Homo sapiens: one gene and its partners. The protein of the gene in region 4 interacts with the protein of the main gene of each other region in a pairwise test. Each region holds a gene or a part of one and is shown on either strand. Other genes may lie near its edges. The genes, in order: ZCCHC10, BANF2, NUTF2 and BEND7.

Region 1 (6,098 bases), on a different chromosome or scaffold from region 4:
TCTCTAGAAGTTAGTCTCCACTTTGCCATTGATTCTGTTTTTTGTTTTTTCTCACTCTGTCACCCAGGCTGTAGTGCAGTGGCACACTCATGGCTCAGTGCAGCCTCAACCTCCTGGGCTCAATCTATTCTCTTGCCACAGCCTCCTGAGTAGCTGGGACTATAGGGGCACATCACCATGCCCAGCTAATTTTTTAATTTTTTGTAGAGACAGAGTCTTACTATGTTGTCTAGGCTGGTCTCATATTCCTGGACTCAAGTGATTCTCCCGTCTTGGCTTCCCAAAATGTTGGGATTACAGGCATGAGCCACTGTGACCAGCCTGATTCTGTCATTTTGAATGAAATGTGTGACTAGAAGAACTGAGTTCCTGCTCTCTGTACCTCTGCAGTCATACTTTTAACAGCCATAATAGTAAAACTTTAAAATTGGAATTTGTTCAAATGTCTTTACACCTCAAATGGAATAACTGACATTAAATAAAACACTAAAGAGATAACAGAAGTTTAAGCTTGTGAGCACAAATTGTGAGTTTTATTTAACTGCAAGTGATGCAACCTATGTAACACATTCTTTTCTCATCCGTGTTCTTTAACTGCTAATATTACCTTTACAGAGACAAACATTATAAAATGTGCCTGATTGGTAATTTATTAACTCTATCTGTCAAGTGATAATATTCTGTAGGCAGCCTTTGAAATGATGTTTTGAGAATTTATTTACAACCATTGAACACAGATGGTTTTGTAAAACTGACAATTACAGGCTCCTTAAACTCACAACATACATATATTTCAATATTTAAATAGCCTGTTTTCTTCAAAAGTAATTTTCTACTGCTTTTTCATAAAAATATAAAAAAGACAACATTTATAGTTTTAAAAACCTATATTTAACCCAAATCAAATTTTTTCTACAAATGATACCTCTTTCCAAAAAGTTAAAAAGACATCACAGAATACTGTGATGTTAAACCAAAGACTCATCACAATAACAGCATTTTACTTTTAAGAAATATTGTGCAGTATCTCCTTTTTAACCTTTCATGCTAGATTTCAACTATGTATATCCTATGTAAACACACCAGATTAATCCTAGTCATTCATATATATGCAGTAGACTGTCATATATGACCAGTTACCATACAAACTATAATACCATATTTTCAAAAATAGCAAAAAGCAATCTTTATGAAAGCTTAAAAAAAGCTTTTAATAAAAGGCGACCAACATTGCCCTAATTTTCAGTAAAAATTACCTCTTCTTCCTACCTTTCCCCCTGCTTTGAATGGTACCTTTTATTGCATGTTAATACACAAAGATATTTCTAGCACTTCTATTTAAGTTAGCCTCTTACATGGCTGCTTTCTTTTCTGATACACTGACTTTTAACAGAAGGCACCAAGATTAGACTCCTAAGAAGTTTCAATTTTTTTGTCCCTTTTTAGGTTCCTCTAGAATAATTTTCCTCAGAAAAGGATAACTTGAAAAACTTAAGGAACCAGAAGAAAATGAATGACGTAACACAGCAATTTGAAACTTACAGCATTCAAAAACTATAAATATATTAATAGGCTCCTTGAACATACCACTTAGGACAAAAAGTCAGATAACTTTCTGAACATAAATGTAAAAATAGAGCACATTTATTAATAGTAGGAAAACTCCTAAGCTTACAGTAACAACATATTAAATCTTACATAACATACAGCCAAAAGCATTAGAAATCCACTGCCAGATATCCTGACGCACCATCCTGAAAATATGTCTGATACATACCACTAACATATATAACAAAGTATGGCATTTATTTCACAGAGAGAAAAGATAGTTTCATCACACAAACAGATTTGCAGATTTCAGCTTTAAGTTCTAGAGATATATTTTAAAGATAAAAAAAACAAGATTCACCCTTCAAATAAAAGTCTCTCTCTATAAGCCATTATTAATATTCTCTATGCTCTTACAATGTAAAACATTTAGAAACTTTTGAATTCTAGAAATGTTCACCAGTTAACCTACTTGGCCTTAACATATTCTAAATTCCCTTTCAAGAATCACATCAATGTTTTCAGTCCATCAGTCCAATATGAATGGAGCAACTCTATTTCTTTTTCTTCTTCTTTGGTGGTTCATCGTCAGAGCTGCTATCTGTGCTGGTGCTACTGCTACTGGAAGAGCTGGAATCTGAGTCTGAATCAGAGGAGGAGGAAGAGGTTGTGGAGGAGGCTGAGGATGAGGAACTAGAGGAGCTTTCATCAGTGTCACTGTCCTCTGAGGAGGAAGAGGTAGATGTTTCTTCACTCTCTGATGAAGAATCACTGGCAGAACTGTCACTGCTACTGCTACTGGAACTGGTTACACTCTTAGACCTATTAGACAATACAGAGTTATATACATGGGAAGGTGACATGTAATAGAATGTTAAAAGCAATTTCATTTTTTTTTTCTTTTCGAGACAGAGTCTTGCTCTGTTGCCCAGTGTGGAGTGCAGTGGCACAATCTCAGCTCACTGCAACCTCTGCCTCCCAGGTTCAAGAAATTCTCTTGCCTCAGCCTTCCAAGTAGCCAGGATTACAGGTGCGCACACCGACGCCCAGATGATTTTTGTATTTTTAGTAGAGACGGGGTTTCATCATGTTCACCATGTTGGCCAGGCTGGTCTCGAACTCCTGACCTCATGATCTGCCCGCCTCAGCCTCCCAAAGTGCTAGGATTACAGGCGTGAGCCACCGCGCCCAGCCAAAAGCGATTTCATATGATTCCATATATATGCTTATATATTGAAGCTTTGCTAGCATGTTATCCTTAGGTTTGATATTTTGGAGATTGCCTGTTGTAAACCACAGTCCCTCTCTTTACAAGGCATTGTTACTTCAGCAACTTAATTCTCTTGGATGGAATTCAAGATAAGCATATCTACTATATTACATTTCAGAGGGAATAATGTCAGAATAAAGCTGCAGTATAACAATTGGGTCTATTTAAACCTCACGTAGCTTAGCTGGTGACTGTTTCATCATCTTTATTTTAACTACTTCAGACCAGATATGGCTGGCCAACAATTTCTTACCAGTCTATTAACACTTCCTATTCTAAGCCAAGAGAAGACAATTATTTATTGTTTCCACGTACAAGGACTCTAGAAAGTTGGAGTAAAAGGAGAAATGGAAGCAATGCATTTCCAGACAGGTTAAAAAAAGGAACTTATCAGAAAATAGGATGATTATTTAATTATAAATTGCAGTAAGAGGCTTCAGATCCAAATCTTATAGCTATTTTTTTTTGAGACAGAGTTTCGCTCTGTTGCCCAGGCTGGAGTGTAATGGCATGATCTTGGCTCATGGCAACCTCTGCCTCCCAGGTTCAAGCAATTCTCCTGCCTCAGCCTCTCAAGTAGCTGGGATTACAGGCATGTGCCACCACACCCAGCTAATTTTTCTATTTTTAGTAGAGACACGGTTTCACCATGTTGGACAGGCTGGTCTCCAACTCCTGACCTCAGGTGATCCACCCACCTTGGCCTCCCAAAGTGCTGGGATTATAGGCATGAGCCACTGCATCTGGCATAGCTATTGTTTTAAAATCACCTTTCCCATCCCGCCAATTAGTATTACATGTTATCTATAAAACACTGCTAAAACCACACATACCTTTTTTTCTTGGCCTTTCTTTCTACATTGGTTTCTCCAATGCTGATAAACACGAGGGGGAAAAAAGCTCCTGTTAATAGAGTGATTATACACAGCTCAGACAAGCCCTTCTACTATCCCCCAAATCATTTTACTCTGGAGAAAGATTCTGTGTTTTTATCACATACAGAGTACAGTATTTCTTATTATAAGCAAGTGGAAAGTCTGCCATTGTAGGCTGTATACGGTACATGCAGTCAACTTAACCAGCATTTAAGCAAGACAATGCATCTTAGCACGTGTATAAAAGTCAGGTAGGTTAGTAGTTAAGATGATTAAATTTTTTTAGTCTGGAACTTAGGCTGATATAGCTGTATCACTACCTCCTGAACAACAGAACAAAGCTAATAGCACAATAGCCCTAATTTGTAGTTTGAGTTCTCAGAATCATACAAATAGCCATTTCATAATTTTTCAAAAGCAGCCCTTTAATTTAAAATAACTATTTCTTTTTCTGCATGTCCCGTTATTTACTTTTTTTTTTTTTTTTTTGAGACAAAGTCTTGTTCTGCTGTCCAGGCTGGTGCAGTGGCGCGATCTTGGCTCACTGCAACCTCCGCCTCCTGGGTTCAAGGAATTCTTCTGCCTCAGCCTCCTGAGTAGCTGGGACTACAGGTGTGTGTCACCAAGCCCGGCTAATTTTTACATTTTTAGTAGAGACAGGGTTTTATCATACTGGCCAGGCTGGTCTCAAACTCCTGACCTCATGATCCGCCCACCTTGGCCTCCCAAAGTCCTGGGGATTACAGGTGTGAGCCACCCTGCCTGGCCGAGTTATTTACTCTTTAAAGACCAGAAATGTAATACTTCAAAACTATGCTCACTCACATTAGTTATAAAGTCTGGTAAATTTGAATGAAAGGGACAAATAGCTTGCTGCTATTATTCTGTCAAACAACATGCATACTAAATCAGGTTTTTAAATTACACAATTAGGCCAGGTGCGGTGGCTCACACCTGTAATCCCAGCAGTTTGGGAGGCCGAGGCAGGCAGATCATTTGAGGTCAGGAGTTCGAGACCAGCCTGGCCAACATGGTGAAACCCTGTCTCTACTAAAAAAAACACAAAAATTAGCCAGGCTTGGTGGTGCATGCCTGTACTCCCAGCTACCCAGGAGACTGAGGCAGGAGAATCTCTTGAACCTGGGAGGCAGAGGTTGCAGTGAGCTGAGATCGCACCATTGCACTCCAGTTTGGGCGACAGAGCAAGACTCTGTCTCAAAATAAAAACAACAACAACAACAACAACAAGAAAAAAACAATTAATTCTATCACCACTGTCCTGTAAATTTAACTTTTTTTTTTCTTTTTGAGATAGGGTCTCACTGTTACCCAGGCTGGAGTGCAGTGGCATGATCTTGGCTTACCGCAACCTCTGCCTCCCAGCCTCAAGCAATCCTCCCACCTCAACCTCTGGAGTAGCTGGGACTACAACACGCACCACCATGCCTAACTTTTGTATTTTTTGTAGAGACGGGGTTTGACCATGTTGCCCAGCCTGGTCCTGAACTCCTAAGCTCAAGCAATCTGCTCACCTCAGCTTCCCAAAGTGTTGGGATTACAAGTGTGAGCCACCACACATGGCCAATGTTTTTATATCCTGGCCTTCTCTATATTTCCTAGATAATGCTTCCATCATTGTTTCCTGAGTCTCCAAACATAAACATGTATTTATGTAAAGTTTTTTACACAATGGAATTACTTACTGAATTGTCATTTTGGGCATAAAATAAGAGGGTGAAGTATACTTATTAAATTATAACTGAATCAAAATTCAGCAATCTTTTTTTTTTTTTTTTTTTTTTTTTTTGAGATGGAGTCTCCCTCTGTCGCCCAGGCAGGAGTGCAGTGCTGGATCTCGGCTCACTGCAAGCTCCACCTCCCGGGTTCATGCCATTTCCTGCCTCAGCCTCCCGAGTAGCTGGGACTACAGGTGCCCGCCACTATGTCTGGCTAATTTTTTTGTATTTTTAGTAGAGACAGGGTTTCACCATGTTAGCCAGGATGGTCTCGATCTCCTGATCTTGTGATCCACCCGCCTCAGCCTCCCAAAATGCTGGGATTGCAGGTGTGAGCCAAGGTTCCTGGCCAGCAATCTTTTTTAACAGAGCCAGATTCATGTAATTATATATATTTTTAGACCAAAATACTTGTGAGATACAATTAGAAAAACAAAAGTAAATGTCAAAATAAAATTTTATTTATGTATTTATTTTTTGTAGAGGTGAGACTTGCTATGTTGCCCAGGCTGGTCTCAAACTCCTGTCCTCAAGTGATCCTCCCACCTTAGCTTCCCAAAGTGCTAGGATTATAGGTGTGCGCCTAAACTAGAATGAAAATTTTCATAACCCGTATTTCATTCTTTAGGACAGGGGTCTTCAAACATTTTTTTGCTTACATTCCTAATA
Region 2 (5,439 bases), on a different chromosome or scaffold from region 4:
GAAGTGAGGATTCACACCAAAGACACAGAGTTTAAGCCGGGCGTGGTAGCTCCTGCCTGTAATCCCAGAACTTTGGGAAGATCACTTGAGGTCAGGAGTTCAAGACCAGCCTGGCCAACATGGTGAAATCCCGTCTGTATAGAAAATACAAAATTAGCCACGCATGGTGGTGCATGCCTGTAATCCCAGCTACTTGGGAGGCTGAGGCAGGAGAATCACTTGAACCTGGAAGGTGGAGGTTGCAGTGAGCCGCTATCGTGCCACTGCACTCCAACCTGGGCTATAGAGTGAGACTCTGTCTCAAAATAAAAGAAGAAGAAAAAAAAACACACAAGAGTTTAAACCTGAAATGACATGAAGACTTAGGCGACTGGCGAGAGAGAATCAAAGAAAGTTGTGTCACTGCACCATGGAGTCTGGTGGTGATTGAAGTCCGTTCAGCACAGGTGCTCAGGACCTGCGGACTTGGGCAGAGGGCATTGTAAGCAGCTAGAGAACAAGAGAGGGCAGAGACAGCTTATCTCTGCTTGACAAGGCCCAGCATTATGGTGAGTACTGAGCATTTTAATAAGTGTGGATCTCAGCCAGCTATTTAATTTTTAGGGCCCACTGTAAAATGAAAATGCAAGACCTCTAGTTCAAATTTATTAGGGGGTGTAGTGGCACGTGCTTGTAGTTCCAGCTACTCGGGAGGCTGAGGTGGGAGGATCATTTGAGCCCAGGAATTTATGGTTGCCAAGAGCTACTGCATGCTACTGAACTCTAGCCTGTGTGACGGAATGAGATCCCGTCTCTTAGGAAAAAAAAAAAAAAAAAAAAAAGTAGGCCAGGCGTGATGGCTCACTCCTGTAATCCCAGCACTTTGGGAGGCCGAGGCGGGCAGATCACGAGGTCAGGGGATCGAGACCATCCTGGCTAACTTGGTGAAACCCTGTCTCTACTGAAAATACAAAAAATTATCCAAGCGTGGTGGCACGCACCCGTAGTCCCACCTACTCGGGAGGCTGAGGCAGGAGAATCGCTTGAACCTGGGATGCAGAGGTTGCAGTGAGCCAAGACCGTGCCACTGCACTCCATCCTGGGCAACAGAGGGAGACGTCGTCAAAAAAAAAAAAGAAAAAAAGGAAAACTAATAAAAAAATAAAAGAAATTTAGTAAGAATTTCCAGATGACAAGAGCCAAGTGTTAAACCAGCTCAGGGTGCTCTTAGCACCAGGCGCTGTGTGAAAACATGGCTCAGATGCAAGGGAACCCAACCCTGGCATAGGCTCAAACTGCTGCTGTTTAGCAAGAAGTGGGCACCGCAAACTGGAGGGTGATTCCTCCCCTGCTTGGGGGCCGGCCCCTGGAGGAACCTCACTGTTTGCACTTGGAGTTTAGGGGCATTCTGCCCTTGAGCCCCCATCCTTTTGTTTGTTTGTTTCGAGACAGAGTCTCACTCTGTTGCCCAGGCTGGAGTGCAGTGGCATAATCTCAGCTCATGCAATCTCCACCTCCTGGGTTCTCCTGCCTCAGCCTCCCAAGTAGCTGGGATTACACGCGGCTGCCACCATACCAGGCTAATTTTTGTATTTTTAGTAGAGATGGGGTTTCACTATGTTGGCCAGGCTGGTCTCGAACTCCTGACCTCAGATGATCTGCCCGCTCAGCCTCCCAAAGTGCTGGGATTACAGGAGTGAGCCACCACACCTGGCCGAGCCCCCCCTCTTACAGCTGCAGGACGGAATGTAATTCCCTGGCTTGGCCATGGCCACGGCCACTGTCCAGAGTGGTAGGAGGACAGGGACAGCTGCTCAGGGTTTCTGTGTTTCTGTGTCACCCCTCCCACCCCAGTAGCTGAATTCTGGGGAGCTCTGGCCCAAGGAGGGAAAGGGGCAGCATCTTTTCTCCTTGATTAGGGGGCTTTCTGGAGCCGGGGGAGAAACCAAGCGGGCATCTGGCAGGGCCATGATGGGAGCCCACGACTCCAGCTTCCCTGGGGAGCAGGGTGAAGTGCTCAGGGAAGAAGGGAGAAGGGAAGCCAACTTTCCCTCCTGGAAGATGCCACAGGGAGACAGGAGGGAAAACTGAGGAGGGAGTGTCAGGTTGCCACTTGGCTCCAGAGGCTGCAAGACGGGGCTTCCTGTAGCATTCCTGGAAAGTTTGCCCAGGGTCCACATGTTCCCAGGCATCCTGGCTGCTGAGCCTGTGGGTATGTGGAGGCTCTCACTAACAGGCCAGCTGATGCTGGCAGTGCCACTTCTAAAACGGGCAGGGGATGCATTAGCCTCCAGGCCAGACTGTGGACAGTTGGGAAGTGCAGGAATAGTGCAGAGGAAAACAGGAGACTTAGTACCTCCACCTGGGGAATGGGAGGGGTGAGTACATGTGAGGATCAGGTGGATTAAAACGTGTCAGGTGTCTAGCAGCACGTGGCCGACAGAAGTGCTAAAAAGTGCTACTTAGCATTAACTACTATTATTAAGTATTATCATGAACATTTCTCTTTATGGAGAAAGCTTTGTGTAAGCCACTTACTATTAATTATTGTTAATTATTATTAATATTCTCTCTCCTTGGACACAGCTCTATGTCTCTCGTTTCTGTTACCTTCACCTTGGCACCTCCCACACCTACGTCTACTGGCTCAATTAACACTTAATAAATGTTATTTTTCAAAAACATTAATTTAAATACATCTCAGTAAAATCCATTCAAAATGGGAGGATACTGATAAAGTAAAATGAGATCACGCCAAGTAACTATATTGCTTTTTTTAAAAAAGATTAAAGTAGCAGTTCAGAATCACCACAAAATCCTGGCTTTTTTCTCTTATCAACAACTGGACCATGACTAAAAATAAAGCCCCCAAAATTCAATGCTTGGGTATATTTTATGACTGGGATTCAGCTTTTATTTGATTTCTCTTCTTAAAAAGTATGCTCTCTTTGGTTAAGATGAAGTTTGCTTTATTTTACATAACTAAAAGTAAACAGACACCATCAGGTTTTCCTGGAAAGGGCCCAGAACTCGAGGCATGGGTGGATGCTGGTTCTTGTTGGTTCCAGGCTGGAGAGCCCCCAAAACCAGCCCTGAGAGATGGGCGTTTAATGTGACCTGAGCTCTCCAGCCTCCACCATTTAGTGGCTTGGCTAGTTTCTGGCTACGTGGCCTTGGGAATTCCCTTCCTCCATGTGGTCCTTGTGCCTTGTCAATAATGGTGTAATAAAACTATAAAAGATGAATTAAAAGCCTCGAGGCAAGTATTAATAGCTAGAAAGCTTGAGAATGCCATAAAAATAGAAATCACAGTGCACTGAGTGCTTATCTTCCATGTATTTTTTATCCACAGAGACTGAGGAAGGGGAACGTGGACAAGGTTTAGCATGTTTTAAACCTTCTATGCTCCTCCTACAGAACTACAGCTCCCAGTATGAGAGAGGAATTTACATTTTTTGAATGCCTTCCCATTTAATTCACTTAATTTAATTTGCAGAGCACACCGTGTGCATTAGGAAGGTGCAGAAACTGAGATCCAGGTTCTGTGGGTTCTTACTTCAGGTTACATGAGTTGCCTGAGATCACACAGGTGGTTTGCAAAAACAAATCAATGCTAAGATGCCATTCATCTGTCAGCCCCATGTGCAGTGGTTCTCAGCCCAAGGAGATTTTGCCCCCAAGGGACATTTGGCAATGTTTGGGGATGGTTATGATTGTCGCTACTTGGGTCGGGGAGGGAGGGTGCCACCGGCATGCGTAGAGATCAGGGGTGCTGCTGAACATCCTGCAATGCACAGGACAGCCCCCCATAACATTTCAAGCATTGTCCAAAATATCAATAGTGCCGAGGTTTAGAAACCCCGTGCTATGGGCACAGTGGCTTACCCCTGTAATCCCAGCACTTTGGGAGGCCAAGGCAGGTGGATCACCCGAGATCAGGAGTTCGAGACCAGCCTGGACAACATGGCAAAACCCCGTCTCTACTAAAAATATGAAAATTAGCCAGGCATGGTGGCAGGCACCTGTAATCCCAGCTACTTGGAAAGCTGAGGCAGGAGAATCGCTTGAGGCGGAGGTTGCAGTGAGCCGAGATCACGCCATTGCACTCCGGCCTGGGCGACAGAGCAAGATTCTGTCTCCAAAAAAATAAAATAAATAAACAAATAAAAGAAAGAAAAGAAAAGAGAAGAAAAGAAAAGAAATCCCATGCTACAACAATTGCAGAAGTAGTGGGGCGGGAATGTCTCTTACTCTGTCTGGGTTATGTGTGTGTTTCCAAGAGAAATGCTTCACTGGAGGTCTGAAGGGAGCTTCAGGAGTGTGCTAGGCCCCGGCTACTCAAACTGTTGTCCCTGGACCAGCAGCAGCTGGGAGCATGTTAGAAATGCAGGCCTCTCCCTGGACTTAGACTTTCAGAACCCGCATTTTAACAAGCTCCCACATGATTCATGTGCTTGTCAAAGTTTGAAGGGGGCAGGGTCTGACTCATTCCAGGGTGGACGGCCCGCAAACCAGCCCTGAGAGATGGGCATTTAACTTGGCCTTAGCTCTCACCAGGGCTAAGACCCATGTCAGGGCTTCAAGGACTGACAGGCTCCCTTGAATCGGCCCTGCTCCCCCTCCTTTGATTGTCACGTGAGCCCTGGTTGCTGGGAAGGAAGAGCGCGTCTGAGCTGGCTTATGATAACCTTTCCTGCTTTCCTCCCTGTCTCATCCCCTCCCCAGGCCTACATCCTGCTGGGACAATTCCTTCTGATGCACAAGAATGAAGCCGAGTTTCAGAGGTGGCTCATTTGCTGTTTTGGTGCCACTGAGTGTGAGGCCCAGCAGACTTCTCACTGCCTCAAGGAGTGGTGTGCCTGCTTCCTGTAGACACAAACCTCATTGCTGCCCCCCACCACCCTCTGGGGAAAATGACGCCTTCTCCACCTATGCCCAGGCTCCGAGTCCTCATTTGTGTTTTTAATTTTAATGATACACTCCCATTATAAGCAGTAGTTCAAGAACATAAAACAGGACAAATGCAAGAGAAATGACTCCCAAACCCACCACCCAGAAACCATAGTCAATCCTCTTAGATGAATATCATGTCAAATATCTTTCAGCAAAAAATTTATATGAAAGAATGGATAATTTTATTTAAAAATAGGAATTGAATTTTAAGTCAGTGTATTGGTCATCTATTGCTGCATAACAAATAGTCCCAACATGTAGCAGCTTCTCAAAACAAACAATGATGCTACCTCACAGGGTTTCTGAGGGTCAGGAACCTGAGGGTTGTTTAGCCAGCTGGTTCTGTCTCAGGGTCTCTCATGAGATTACTCACTGTTGGCCCAGCAGCAGTCATCTGAAGGCTGGACCAGGGCTGGAGGACCCACCTCCAAGATGGCTGCCTCACATGGCTGCTGGCAAGACATCTTGGTTCCTCACCACATGGGCCTTCCCATCGGGCTGCTCGTG
Region 3 (7,084 bases), on a different chromosome or scaffold from region 4:
GCCCGCCGCAGGCAGCAGCAGCAACAGCAGCAGCAGCAGCAACAGCAGCAACAGCAGCAGCAGCAGCAACAGCAGCAGCAGCAGCAGCAGCAGCAGCAGTCCTCACCCTCTGCCTCCACTGCCCAGACTGCCCAGCTGCAGCCGAACCTGGTATCTGCTTCCGCGGCCGTGCTTCTCACCCTTCAGGCCACTGTAGACAGCAGTCAGGCTCCGGGATCCGTACAGCCGGCGCCCATCACTCCCACTGGAGAAGACGTGAAGCCCATCGATCTCACAGTGCAAGTGGAGTTTGCAGCCGCAGAGGGCGCAGCCGCTGCGGCCGCCGCGTCGGAGTTACAGGCTGCTACCGCAGGGCTGGAGGCTGCCGAGTGCCCTATGGGCCCCCAGTTGGTGGTGGTAGGGGAAGAGGGCTTCCCTGATACTGGCTCCGACCATTCGTACTCCTTGTCGTCAGGCACCACGGAGGAGGAGCTCCTGCGCAAGCTGAATGAGCAGCGGGACATCCTGGCTCTGATGGAAGTGAAGATGAAAGAGATGAAAGGCAGCATTCGCCACCTGCGTCTCACTGAGGCCAAGCTGCGCGAAGAACTGCGTGAGAAGGATCGGCTGCTTGCCATGGCTGTCATCCGCAAGAAGCACGGAATGTGAACTGGTGCCCCGGCAGCCTGCTGGACTCCCAGACCCCATCCAGCCAGGGGACCGCAGGCCATTGTTGAACTCCTCTATACTCCTGGGCACTGGTTGACAGTACTGAGGCTTAAGGCAGCTGGACTCTCTTGCTGGTGACCTGGCATCCTCAATTGTTTCCTCCTGAAGTGGAAGCTGGGGCCTTAGACTCTGCCCTGGTGACACCAGCAATTATGACTTTGTCTACCCTTCCTCCCCAGTTATTGTTGCAGATTCTGGTTAAGCAGAGGCTTCAGAACCACTGAACTTGAAACTTACCCTCTAGGGATGCAGGTGGGATGTCCAGGGACTATAGGTTTGGGAAAACCATACCTTAAGGTTGGTCAGCAGTCAGACAACTCTAATGTGTGTAGTGATAAGAGATTCAAGTAACATCAGTTCTCCTCCTTTTCATGCTTTTCCTTCCCAGGTGCAGCCTGTGATTCTGATGGGGACTGGTAAATCTGTGCCTCTGCCTCCTAGGACTTATTTTCCCAGGAGGCCATTTACAAGGGGATCTGGATGACCTGCTGATGGAGATCCAGCTTGCCAGGGACTTAGGTTTATCCTGTTTTGTTTGCTACTGGTTACAAATTCTATTTTCTGTACAATTAGTCAGACTAAAGTTTTCACTGTGTTTGTTTGGCAAAACAAATTAAACAAAAAGTAAGGTTTTTATTTGGGTCTCGCCATTTTATTTTTACAAAAACATAGTTAAATGTCCTTGAAACATGGGGAAATAGGCCTCAGCCTTTCTGAAAGACCAGGCTGACCCTGAAAGTAGAGATGCTTCAATGACCAGTTTTTCCAAAAATGGGCCCTAAGCACATGGATCCTGGCCTTATAAGGTCCTCACAGAGTTCCTGGCCCAGCTCACCCTAAAGAGTTTGGAAACTGCACCAAATGGGCCCAGTTTGTCCATGGATTATCTCCCTGTATCCTTTCAACAAGAAGGACCAACTGGTAACTAAGCTATATTGTGATAGTTCGCCTCTGAGGGTTTCAATTCTCAGCTGGGATTGAATTTTGCTCACCATGACATCCCTTAGGCTTAGCACAGCCTCTGGTATGCATGTGCATGCAGTTACTCTGTGAACCGGTAAGAGCGCAGCTGGAGCTAGCCAGGGCTGCTTCAGGCACAAGGACTGTTGTATAGATACCTTGGCCTTGGTACACCTTCGGTGTGACAGAGCTGTATCCACAGAGAGCATTAAGAAGTTGGGAGGTGTGATTCCTTGACTCATTTTCTTGGCTGCCTGCCTCTATTTTTTTTTTTTTATTTTTTTTTAAGATGGAGCTTTGCTCTTGTCACCCAGGCTGGAGTGCAATGGTGTGATCTCAGCTCACTGCAACCTCTGCCTCCCAGGTTCAAGCAATTCTTCTGCCTCACCCTCCTGAGTAGCTGGGATTATAGGCACCCGCCACCACGTCGGGCTGATTTTTGTATTTTCAGTAGAGACAGGATTTCACCATGTTGGCCAGGCTGGTCTCGAGCTCCTGATCTCAGGTGATCCGCCTGCTCTGCCTCCCAAAGTACTGAGATTACAGGTGTGAGCTACCCCGCCCAGCCTCTATTTTTTCTTAGATTGAATATTGAAGGGGCAAGGATTACATTGCTTTTGTCTATAGCTCCAAGTAATTTAGCTCAAAGCCAATGTCTAAAAGTAAATGCCTTTAAAGCTCTGGGTTTACTGTGGGTGGTGGGGCACAAACGGAGACTTTCAGACCCCATAAAATATGACTCCCTTCTCTTTCTTACTTATGGACAAAGCCATCTGCCTGGGGACTTGTCTGTGGCAACATGCTGGGATGGTCCTAAAACTCAAGTCTCTGTTTCCCTTCTAGTCCCTTAGCACTGAGTTGGGAAAGTGGTGGGGAAGGAGTGAGACATAGGTTGTGTAGGTGGCTGGTTGGGGGATGGACTGGACCTCTGTCTTCCTAGGGTTAGATCTGGCTGGTAATCAGGTGGTGGAAGCACTGCAGTGCCCTTTGTTGCTCCTATTGGGCCAGTCTCACATCTTCCCGGTCGGAGCAAGGCCTTTTCCAGGATCCAGCCATGCTCTTCAGTGTATCCTTGAGCTCCTATTTATTGAAGGGACTTCTGCTGTTTCTGCATTGGCTCCCTTGAGGCTCTCAGCAGTACTCCCTGGACCCTCCCTGGTGTCTGGAGGTTATGGGCAGTGTTTTGGCTTCTTAGGGAGAAGAAGACAGTTCACAGAGCAAGGGAGATCCCAGATGCAGATGTATAAGCGGGGCAATGCAGAGTTCTCACTAGCTGAGTAATAAGCATCTAGTCAGGCAAAGTGTAGTGTTGACAGACCTGAGATTTAAAAAACAGAAGTGTGGTCCGGTCTTACCAGCCATCTCTTGGAGGGGTAGCCTGTGGGTGGGGGAAGGTGCAAAACTCTTGTGGAAGAACAGGAGTACTGAGAGACCTCCGGCCAGGAAGGAAGGCTAGGAGTTGCCTGGAGAGGCCTTGTAGCCATTTCCCTTACCTGTGGTACCCCAAGTTGGCTGCAGATCTCTTTGCCAAGCACAGGTCTGACCTAGAGACTGGCCTTACCACAAATGTTTGTGTTACCAAGAAAACAAATGGGCGTTGAAAGGAAAGGGCAATGGGTAGGAAGAGAACTATTTACAATCTGGTCACTTAAATCACAGCGAAATTTTGGGTAAGTCAGTCATTTCTCTTTCCTCATTAATAAAAATGAAACACTTAGCTGCTCTATCTGCTGCAAAAAAACCTTACAGAATGTTTTGGGGGGACCCCTGACTGTAGAAGTTTGAGGGTAACCTCTCCAACCAAGCCCCACCTGAGGGACATTTGAGTCTCCGGCCCAAGAATAGCCTAGCCTGCTCGAAACCAGCTTTGGGCCCGACTCGCCGAGGTGCAGGCGCACGAATGTTGGGATTGCAGGAGCTGTGCGTTCCGCCCGGGCTGGTTAAGGCCACACAGCTCGGAAGAGTAACAGCGGCAGCCATAGCCCCAAGGGGAGGGGGTTTCGTGAGCGGAAACGGCCCAGGGGCCCAGGGAGGGGCAGCTGGGCCAGCTTGGGGCCGGGCTGGGCTCCCACGGAGGCGGGGCCAACCCCCACCCCAGTGCACAGACTGGGCGGGGCCGAGCCAGCTGAGACCAGGAGACAACTGAGCCCTGACCCTAGCCTGGCGCCAACCTCTAGTGTTCCAGAGGCTTCCGCTAGACCACAATTCTCAGGGGCTTGCCCCGGCAGCCTCCCTCCCTGGCTTAGCCTCACCTCCCGCGCTGCGGGCCGTGTCTGGGCCTCCGCGCATAGCACGCCGGGAATTGTAGTTTTCTCTCGGCGCGCTCATGCCGGAAAGGGGGGGCGGTGGGACTGCGTCTCCCAGAGTGCAGCGGGGCGGGCGAAGGAAGGCAGGGGGGAAGGGACAGTCGGCCGCAGACCGCGCTGGGTTGCCGCTGCCGCTGCCGCCATCGTGCCAGCCCCTCGGGTGAGTGTCGGGGCCAGCACGCCGGGGCGGGGGCTGGGCCGCAGGAGCCGCTCTCTGGGCTGCCGGGAGGCTCCGCTGAGAGTCCCCGGGCGGCCCCTCCCCTCCCCCCCCCCCGGCGGCCCGAAGCCGCGCGGGGCCCGGGCCATGTGTCGCGCGCGGCTCCGCCTCCCGCCGGTCCTGTGAGGCGGCGGCCGGGGGTAACGCACAGAGAGCCAGCCGGGCGCCTATCTGGGCCGTACCGTGCTGGTGGCTGGTGCACCGGCCTGCGCCATGGCCAGGCCTTTTTCTCTAGTCAGGACCGTCCGGATGGGGCCTTAGGGCCCCGCCCCGTCTAGCCTGGCCCGGCCTGCGCGAGCCCCGCAAGCTCTGCAGGCTGGCTAGCGGGCAGACCCCAGCCCCACGTCCTGCTACCCACCTACGAAGGATCCGGGGATGGGCAGCGCCACCCGGCCCGCTCCAGAGTCAGCATGGGTAAGGGCGCCCGCCTGCCGCAGCCGGGGCTTGGGCCCCTCACCCTGTTCCCGACCATAGCCCGGCCGGGGTGTAGGTGAACGCCCCCTCCTTGTCTGCCCCTCGGAAGTGTACGTTTCTTACCGCGCCCTTTGTGGAGCCCGGACTGGAGTTCTCGCAGGGAGGGCAGGGTCAGGGAATATGAGGCGGGAGGGGATTCCACGGGAGACTTTATCCCTGTCTTGTCTTAGAGGATCTGGGCCTGATGGGGTGAGGCGGCTCCTGCCGGGTAGGCCCAGCCCACGCCCTTCTCTATCAGTGACCAGGCCCCAGCAGCAACACAGAATTGCCCCGCAGGACAGGATGACTTCATAAGAATGGGATGTTAAGGTGGGACTTAATGCACGGGAAGTAGAATTCAGGCCTGAGGTTCTTGAGCCTAGTGCTAAACCAGAACCTGGGCTGGAAGGGGCTTTGGGGGGTGGGGCACGTAGATTTCAGACTTTGTGGGGCCCTCCCGAAGCCTGGGTGGCAGAACTAGGGCTGGAAGCTCCAGAAAGTCTGGCTTCCCCTCACTTGCTTGCTCACTTCCCAACAACTGGAGCTGCCTGTAAACAGGCAGGAACCTGGTTGCTTTATGAAATTGCCCTTACTGATGCCATCAGAGACCCTACTGAGTTCTGGGGGAAGAGTTATCTTTGACCAAAAAATACTATCCTGATATCCTTTGTAAAGGCGCTTCTGATTGAGAGATGGTAAATTAAGGAACCAGTCCAGAGAAGACCTTGGGACTAGGGGAGAGATGGCATGTAAAGCGTTGATTTCTCTGAGCCGCAGTCTTTCCAGAGACTAAAGAAGTAGCTCAGGCCTGGCGCGGTGGCTCACGCCTGCAATCCCAGCACTTTGGGAGGCCAAGGCCAGCGGATCACCTGAGGTCCGGGGTTCCAGACTAGCATGGCCAACATGGCAAAAGCGCATCTCTACTAAAAATACAAAAATTAGCTGAACGTGGAGGTGCACTTCTGTAATCCTAGCTACTCAGGAGACTGAGGCAGGAGAATTGCTTGAACCCGGGAGGTGGAGGTCGCAGTGAACTGAGATCATGCCACTGTACTCCAGCCTGGGTGACAGGGCAAGACTCTGTCTCCAAAATAAAAAAAGCTGGGTGTGGTGGCGTGCACCTGTAATCCCAGCTACTTGGGAGGCTGAGGCAGGAGAATCGCTTGAATCCGGGAGGCAGAGGTTGCAGTGGGCAGAGATCATGCCACTGCACTCCAGCCTGGGCGACAGAGCAAGACTCTGTCTCAAAAAAAAAGAAAAAGAAAAAAAAAAAAAGCAGCAGCAGCTCAATCTCTGCAGCTCTGGCCTCAGGAGCAAGCAGAATATCAGGTCTCTTAGAAGGGCTGATTGAGACCCAAGGTGAAGAAAGCCACTGACCCTGCATATTTTTTTCTTCCTCCTTGAATATTTTCCCAGGTAATGTTTTTCTGTTCATTTCTGGTCACTTCTTCCAAGTACTCTTGACCTAGAAGTTTTCTTGCATATGAATTGCTCTGCCTAGTTATTCTCCCTGGTCAGGAAGAATAGGCAAGAATGCTGCTCAGATTTTACCAAGCCCTGCCTTCTCTCTGGATGTAACTTTCCTAGTCCATATCCTGGCCCATGAGGACATGGAAATCAGGTTCATCCAAGAGGCTCAGGAGAGGCCAACTTTGCCAGTGGAGCTGGGCAATAAGGAGGGACTACCCACAGGACAATGAGGTGAAATCTAGAACTAGAAGCAGTTATTTCAAGACCCTGTAGATTGTCTGCGTGGGTACTTTCTAGGACACAGATTTCAGGTGAGCTGGCTTACGGCTATGGCGTAGTTTGCGTATTTCATGGCCCTGGGTGACTTGACCAGGAGAGTTTTTGTTTTTCTCTCGAGACGGAGTCTCTCTCTGTCACCCAGGCTGGAGTGCTGTGGTGCGATGTCGGCTCACTGCAACCTCCGCCTCCTGGGTTCAAACGATTCTCCTGCCTCAGCCTCCCTGGTAGCTGGGACTACAGGCGCACGCCACCATGCCTGGCTAATTTCTGTATTTTTAGTAGAGAAGGGGTTTCACCATATTTGTCAGGCTGGTCAAACTCCTGACCTCAGGTGGTCTACCTGCCTTGGCCTCCCCAAAGTGCTGGGATTACAGGCATGAGCCACTGATCCCGGCCTAATTTTATTTTTATTTTTATCTATTTATTTATTTTGAGACGGAGTCTCACTCTGTCACCCAGGCTGGAGTGCAGTGGTGCGATCTCTGCTCATTGCAAGCTCCGCCTCCCGGGTTCACAGCATTCTCCTGCCTCAGCCTCCCGAGTAGCTGGGACTACAGGCGCCCACCACCACGCCCAGCTAACTTTTTGTATTTTTAGTAGAGACGGGGTTTCACCGTGTTAGCCAGGATGGTCTCGATCTCCTGACCTCGTGATCCGCCCGTCTCGGCCTCCCAAAGTGCCGGGATTCCAG
Region 4 (7,033 bases):
TTATAAATAATCCCAATGAAATACCAAAGTAGTCACAGTTATATGTAATATATTTCTTTTTCTTTTTTTTTTTTTTTTTTTTTTGAGACAGGGTCTCGCTCTGCTGCACAGGCTGGAGTGCACTGGTATGATCTTGGTTCACTGCAACCCCTGCCTCCCAGGCTCAAGCGCTTCTCATGCCTCAGCCCCCCAAGTAGCTGGGACTACATGCATGCGCTACCACGCCCGGCTAATTTTTGTATTTTTTAGTAGTGATGGGGTTTCGCCATGTTGGCCAGGCTGGTCTCGAACTCCTGGCCTCAAGCAATCCACTCATCTCGGCCTCCCAAAGCGTTAGGACTACAGGCACGAGCCACCACGCCTAGCCATATTTCTATTGAAAACATAAAATATCTATTTTCAAACTGATATGGGGGAATTTATGTTTGTAACTTTTACTAACTTCATACTTTTCAAAGTAAATCCACTGTCCCTACTGTATACTGGGAAACAGAACACTGTTCACCCAAAACTTACTGATGTGGGGTTTATTAACTTCATACATACCTAAGGGTATTTTATTTCTCTTATTGTCTCTTCCATGGTAGTAGAGTTAGAAAGGTCTTAAAGAATATTTCTAGTCACTATTCTAAGTACCATCTTTTATCATTTTTAGAAGACAAAACCAACCCTTTTCAGCTTGTTATAAATCATTTTCTAATTTTAAAGAGAACTGACTTTTTATTTTTATGGAGGAGTCTTTAAAGAGCTGTGTCCCTCTAACCTGGAGGCATGCCAGCATTGGAACTTTGATACTGGCTTATGTACTACTGAGAGGCAGAGAAGACACCCATACATTTCTGGGGTCCTTCGCTGTCTCATCAATGTCTCAGGATGGCTTTTCATGCCTCTGAACCACAAATTGTGTTTTTAAAAAAAGTCAAAACAGTTCTCTTTTTCTTGAAGGATATTGTGAAATGAAAATGAATGGAAAAAAATCCTTAACTTCTTAAGGAAACTGAAAATGCTTTCTTACCTTTTTCTTGTTCTCTTTGTGAAAACTATAGATCTGCACATCTCTACAGAGTTTATAGAACAAATATTATAGCATCCAGTGTGGCCGGATAGAAAACTAATATGACCACAAAAAGCATCAGGTTTTTCTCCTTAAGCTTTGAAAAAAAATTGTCATTTGATTCTTTTCTTAACAATTAGGAAACTTAAATTAAGAAAATTTTACTTTAAAGGAATACTTTCCATTGCTAATGAAGCATGTTACAAAATATGGATCACTGGGTTCAGTACTGACGTGGGATGCTGGGTTATCGGCCCCCCACCCCTGTCCGCCCCCGCCTTTATCTGGGACTCTTCTGATAATGAGTAAGGTGAAGGAGTAACCAAGAGGATATGTTAGTAACACACCATAGGACCAGGAAGCTTCTTTTAAAGACAGTGGGGAGCTCTTTCTGCCCTAATGTTCAGGTTTTTTTTGTGACAATAATATCCATACATGGGCACAAAATGATCGCTTTAACCTCTTAAAGGGCTAAAATCTCTACCAGGAAATCTTCACTTATAACATAGAACCCCCTGTCTTTCCTAATTCTCAATTCTGTTTTTTAATAGTCTTCAACTCTTTCCTTTGTGTCTCCCTGTCTTTTAAAGTAACTCAGCAAAGGCAGGTAATTATGGGAGGGTTTAATAAATTGAACTCAACACACTGAATATTTAGAAATAGAACAGTACAAACCCCCATGAGAGCCTTCTGAATGTTTGTTGACAACCATACCATTGGAGCTCGTGGTAGGGTGGGGCTGGCTTTGGAAGGTTCTAGAACGGGTGCCATACTGCCCTGAGAACTGTCCACTCTGGGGCGGTAGCTCATTCCACACACCACGTGAAGACGGGTGGAGGCTTTGCGGGGCCTCAGCAGAGGAGTTCAAACGTGGAGGCCAGACTAAATCCAGGTCCTGGGGCTCTTCTTTTAGTTTCTCTCCTTCTTTGCCAACTCGCTGATAGATCCGCCCAGTGCTGTCGTTCAGCAATCTTCTCATCCCTGTAATTTGCTTTTTTATTTCCATGCTTTCATCTCCTAATGGAAACAGGGCCAAAGTTAGCACTCTAAATTAGTGAAAGAGAAAACAGTTCACTAACCAAAAAGAAGAGAAAGAAAAACAACCCTTCTTTGGAAATGGGAAAGATGACTGACTCTATGAACTTAATCTGTAAAACGCAAAGGCAGGAAAACTGACTACGGTCTGAAAAAACCCATCCTATTCCTGGTGCCTCTCATTTTAATCTCTTTCTGCAAGTCGCTTATGATGAAAGAGGTTTCTTGAGAGTGTGTCATCAGGAACAAACATGACATTCCCTCTTTGGAAGCATTTTCTGAATGAGTAGGTGATGAGGAAACAGGCTGAGACAGAAGGTCAAGGATAGAACTGGACCGCGGAACCCCTCTGCTCTGATGGGCCACAGCCACCCGTGAGGAATGGGCAGGTCACTAAAGCGCTCTGCTCACTGTCTGTCAGCTTCACCAGGCGGGGCAAGGACAAGGAAGAAAGCCTGGACTGGCAGGGACGCAGGGCTTCACTACTGACACAATGTCCTTCAGGATGACTGGCAGGGATGCAGGGCTTCACTGCTGACACAATGTCCTCCAGGATGACACGCTGCCGCTGGAGACATCACCTTCAGAGAGGACGGCCGAGGAGACAGAGAGGCGCCGAGTGTGGCAGCATGGCAAGCGAGGGGGTTTTGTCTTTCTGGCACTCTGACTCCCATCACATCAGCCTGGTGATGACCGAGGGGTCCCTGCCACTCGAGGTCACTGGCGGTACCAGCACTGGAAGGGCGGAAGTGCAACCTCCCCACCGTGCCCTCCTCCCATGCCAAACGCACTGCCACCTCCCCTGCAGCGTAACTGTGTGCGAAAGGTCACAGGCCACTTTGAAATCCCACTTCACCTACACTGACTTCTTTTTTTAAGATTTTTCTCCCGTCTCAGGACATTTTTTTAAAATGAAAGAACTTCTATACTGCACTGGGAGTACTTAATAAATATTAAAGATGTCTGTAATATTGCACAGATAGAAAATCTTTTTGGCCGGGCACAGTGGCTCACGCCTGTAATCCCAGCACTTTGGGAGGCCGAGGCGGGTAGATCACCTGAGGTCGGGAGTTCGAGACCAGCCTGACCAACATGGAGAAACCCTGTCTCTACTGAAAATACAAAATTAGCCAGGCGTGGTGGCACATGCCTGTAATCCCAGCTACTCACAAGGCTGAGCCAGGAGAACCCGGCTCACCCAGGAGGTAGAAGTTGTGGTGAGCCAAGATGGCACCATTGCATTCCAGCCTAGGCAACAAGAGTGAAACTCCATCTCAAAAAAAAAAAAAAAAAAAAAGAAAAAGAAAATATTTTCTATCAATAATAATATCAGAGGATGCTGATATCTGTTAGGAGCTATTTCAAACACACTATCTTCTTAAACTGTGCATCAGCCAGTATCTTCATAAAGATGAAGAGAAATGAATTTTTTTTTCTCAAACCCAAAAGATAAAATCTTAGGCCACTGTTGGGCATGGTGGCTCACACGTGTAATCCCAGCCCTTCGGGAGGCTGAGATGGGAGGGTCATTTGAGCTCAGGAGTTTGCGACCAGCCTGGGCAATATGGAGAAACCCCGTCTCTACAAAAAGTACAAAAGTTAGCCCAGCATGGTGGTGTGTGCCTGTGGTCCCAGCTACTTGGAGGCTGAGGTGGAAGGACTGCTTGAGCCCCGGAGGCAGAGGTTGCAGCGAGCCGAGATTGTGCCACTGCACTTCAGCCTGGGTGATAGTGGCAGACCCTGTCTCAAAAAAAAAAAAAATCTTAGGCCAGGGTATGTGTGTGTAAACATTCATGCAGTTACTCTAATAAATGCTTGAAATTTAAACTGTAAGATAAAGAAAAGGCTAACAGACAGCATCTGTTAAGAAAAATACAGCTCCTACAAATACACACAGCACATTCAATATAATGATTGCACTTAGGATCAATTATAATGATCAATATATGTATATATAAGGATATGTATATATATATATGGATCAACATAATGATTGCACTTAGGATAAGCCAGGTTTCTCTGTAGAACTGGTAACTGCACAATAACCTAGCCGTTTTGTGCTTTCCAGTTAGATATTTAGCTTATTAATATATGTGTTATGTTACTAAATAAGGAAGTTTATTTTGAATTTACTGTTCACTATTTTGAAGTAAATATCTTTAGTTTTTAAAAATGATACTAAAAACATTACAGAATATATTAATTCTGTCTAATTGAACATGAGTGAACACGGAAATAACACAGATTTCCAAATTTACAATATTGCTATGTGTTGTTGGCATATGCTTGAGAGGAGAAATATTCTAATTTGAGATAAAACTATTTCTACTTCAAACCCCTGTGAAAATTACAATATATAAACAATAAATCATATTCCAGATTTTATGAGAATGAACGACCAAGCGAGATTTCAATAACGCAGAGTCAGCAAAATTTACTACTTTCTCGAGAGGCTACGGAACAGGGTGTGTCTGGAAGAGGTCCCAAAGGAATCCTGAAAGATAAGCCCACAGGCAAATGCGGTATTAATTTCAGCAACCAGACACATACGTTCCCGGCTAGTTAACACCACAATTCAAGCAAGAGGAGGCATCTTTTCTGTGTGGTTTCCACCCACAGCCCTCCCCATCAGGCCGGGTATGCCTGCACTGAAGTCCATGCAGAGACTAGCCTTCTCTGGCACAGGTTGGTGGCCGCCACCCCTGACCCCAGGCTCCCTGAACAGAGCAGCCATAGCCAGGCCACATGGGGCAGATACCCACCCCGGCTCTCAAGTCCATGCCAGCTTGCTTCTCTACACTAACTGACACATCACAGGAGAAGGGATGTGTCTCCTGCCAAAGGTCCTGCCTCTGCTCTGTAGATATAATGCTAGGATAGATACAGTGCTACCATTAGCAACAGGAAGGCGTCACAAGGATTCTGGAACCTTCTGAGGGCAAATCTGCTTTGTCATGACCTCAGTTTCAGAGTTCCAGAACTTATGCCTATGAAAAGTACATGGCTGAAAATACAACCTGAGTTTTGCATAACTTTGTATTTTCATTTTGACAACCAGCATCCTAAGCTGCAGGTGGCAATGAGGGAGGAAGGTGGCAGGTGTGAGGGGTTCTGGCGGTGGGCTGCGCCTGCCGTGTGCAGAAACATGTCTCCCAAAGGCAAAACAAAACGAAACAAATACACAAAAAATCAGGACGTCGGGGGACTGAGGAGGAAGAAACAGTGCTGAAAGGAAGAGGGCAGAAGGCCAGAAGCAGGTCCCTCCTCAGAGGAAGTAAGCTCACGGCCTAGCTCACTGTGGCATGTTTTAAAGGATGGAACACATCCTTTAAAGGATGGCACAGTGGCTCACACCTGTAATCCCAGCACTTTGGGAGGCTGACGTGGGTGGATCACCCGAGATCTGGAATTTGAGACCAGCCTGGCCAACATGGTGAAAGCCTGTCTCTACTAAAAACACAAAAGTTAGCTGGGCGTGGCAGCGCGCGCCTGTAGTTCCAGCTACTCGGAGGCTGAGGCAGGAGAATCACTTGAACCTGGGAGGCGGAGGTTGCAGTGAGCCAAGGTTGTGCCACTGCACTCCAGCCTGGGCAACAGGGTGAGACTCCATCTCAAAACAAACAAACAAACAAACAAACAACAACTAAAAGGATGGAACACAGAAAACTGCAGTAACTGCAGAAGTCTGTGCTGAGAGGAGAGCTGAGAGGTGAGCTGAGAGTCGGCAGGGAAGGTTGAAGAAGGGCAGAGTGTGGAAAGTTTCTTAGGGGAGATGACGGGACGTTCAGGAATGGTCTCTGGGGTTTACTGAGTCACACTCTCTTCACCCAAAGCAGCAGAAGCAGCTGAGCAGGTCACCCCTGCAGCTGCTGCCTAGGAGGAGGGAGTCCTGGGGCTCTACTCCACAGCAGGGAATGATGAGTGACAGGCTTTGGCAGACAGGAAGAAAGAGGTTTCCTTGCACATTTGGGGCAGGTGGGGCAGAGGATCAGAAACGAGGCCTGAAGACTCCAAGTGACAATGACAAAGAAGCTGAGTCAACCTAAATAATCTGGGGACAGTGGGTGCTGGGAGCAGATGAGCAGGCCGAGCCGTAGAAGCTCGTTGAGTGTGGTGCAGTGTTAGTGTGGGACAGGACAGGCTGGGCTATTACACCCACACCTGGTCTCGCCTCCTAACTACGCCCACCTGCTACTGGATACTAGCCAAGCCACTGAATATTCTCTGGTTTCCTAAATCCTAAAGCAAGAGTCTGAACCCTAACCCGGGGAGGGGCACATGGTAGTCCAGGAGGGGCACAGGATTTTCACCATCACCAAGGTGTTAACCAAGCACTTTGTGGCTCTAGAAGTCCTTTTCGGAAGACAGGCTTCTTCTATCATAGTGGAATCCAAGTTCTTTGATAAAAAAAAAAATTGGTGAAAAGTATACAGGAGATTGAGATTGGAAGCATTCACTGACTTCTACTGGTATTTCCAGTTATCATTAGTCAATGACTTCTCCAGGTATAGATACCAGGAAAAGGAAGCTCTTTGGAGCAACGAGCTCTCTAGCGAGACAGGATGCTATAAGGAAACCTGTGCATTTTTCCTGATCTCTTTCCAAGACGCTGAATCCTTTTCAGAAAAACAAACACAAAGGAATCTTACTAAAATGGATCCATGCCACGTGACTACCTTATTGGCAGCCTGAAATCCTTTGGAGTTTAGTAACTATACTCCTTGGACAAGATCTAAAAAGATTGTATGCTGGATTCTCCCCCTCACTAAATTTCAAGACTCTACTAGATCACGTTCCTTTACGCAAAGAATTTATGACACATAGTCTTGCAGGATCTGATACATGTGAGGGCAACACAGAAGTCAACACACAAGGTTGCCCTTAACTTGGCTAGGAGGGAAGGATCCACTACGTGGAACACGATTATTCACAGGTAATCACGAT

The links.
Region 1: the proteins of BEND7 (region 4) and ZCCHC10 interact in binary tests that used the Homo sapiens proteins (3 or more experiments, as listed by UniProt).
Region 2: the proteins of BEND7 (region 4) and BANF2 interact in binary tests that used the Homo sapiens proteins (3 or more experiments, as listed by UniProt).
Region 3: the proteins of BEND7 (region 4) and NUTF2 interact in binary tests that used the Homo sapiens proteins (3 or more experiments, as listed by UniProt).

What each region holds. Positions count from the first base shown.
Region 1 is NC_000005.10:132,996,481-133,002,578, forward strand, and holds the end of ZCCHC10 (zinc finger CCHC domain-containing protein 10), read right to left. Parts: intron 3,940-6,098; exon of another isoform or gene 3,916-3,939; intron 3,722-3,915; coding exon of another isoform or gene 3,694-3,721; coding exon 3,652-3,693; intron 2,371-3,651; coding exon 2,103-2,370; 3' UTR 505-2,102; downstream 1-504.
Region 2 is NC_000020.11:17,730,961-17,736,399, forward strand, and holds the end of BANF2 (barrier-to-autointegration factor-like protein), read left to right. Parts: intron 1-4,704; coding exon 4,705-4,851; 3' UTR 4,852-4,911; downstream 4,912-5,439. UniProt on the Homo sapiens protein: May play a role in BANF1 regulation and influence tissue-specific roles of BANF1.
Region 3 is NC_000016.10:67,842,852-67,849,935, forward strand, and holds the start of NUTF2 (nuclear transport factor 2), read left to right. Parts: upstream 1-4,081; 5' UTR 4,082-4,134; intron 4,135-4,340; exon of another isoform or gene 4,341-4,842; intron 4,843-7,084. Other genes in the region: THAP11 (THAP domain-containing protein 11), read left to right, coding at 1-648. UniProt on the Homo sapiens protein: Mediates the import of GDP-bound RAN from the cytoplasm into the nucleus which is essential for the function of RAN in cargo receptor-mediated nucleocytoplasmic transport.
Region 4 is NC_000010.11:13,498,010-13,505,042, forward strand, and holds part of BEND7 (BEN domain-containing protein 7), read right to left. Parts: intron 5,585-7,033; exon of another isoform or gene 4,852-5,584; intron 2,671-4,851; exon of another isoform or gene 2,501-2,670; intron 2,072-2,500; coding exon 1,769-2,071; coding exon of another isoform or gene 1,730-1,768; intron 1-1,729.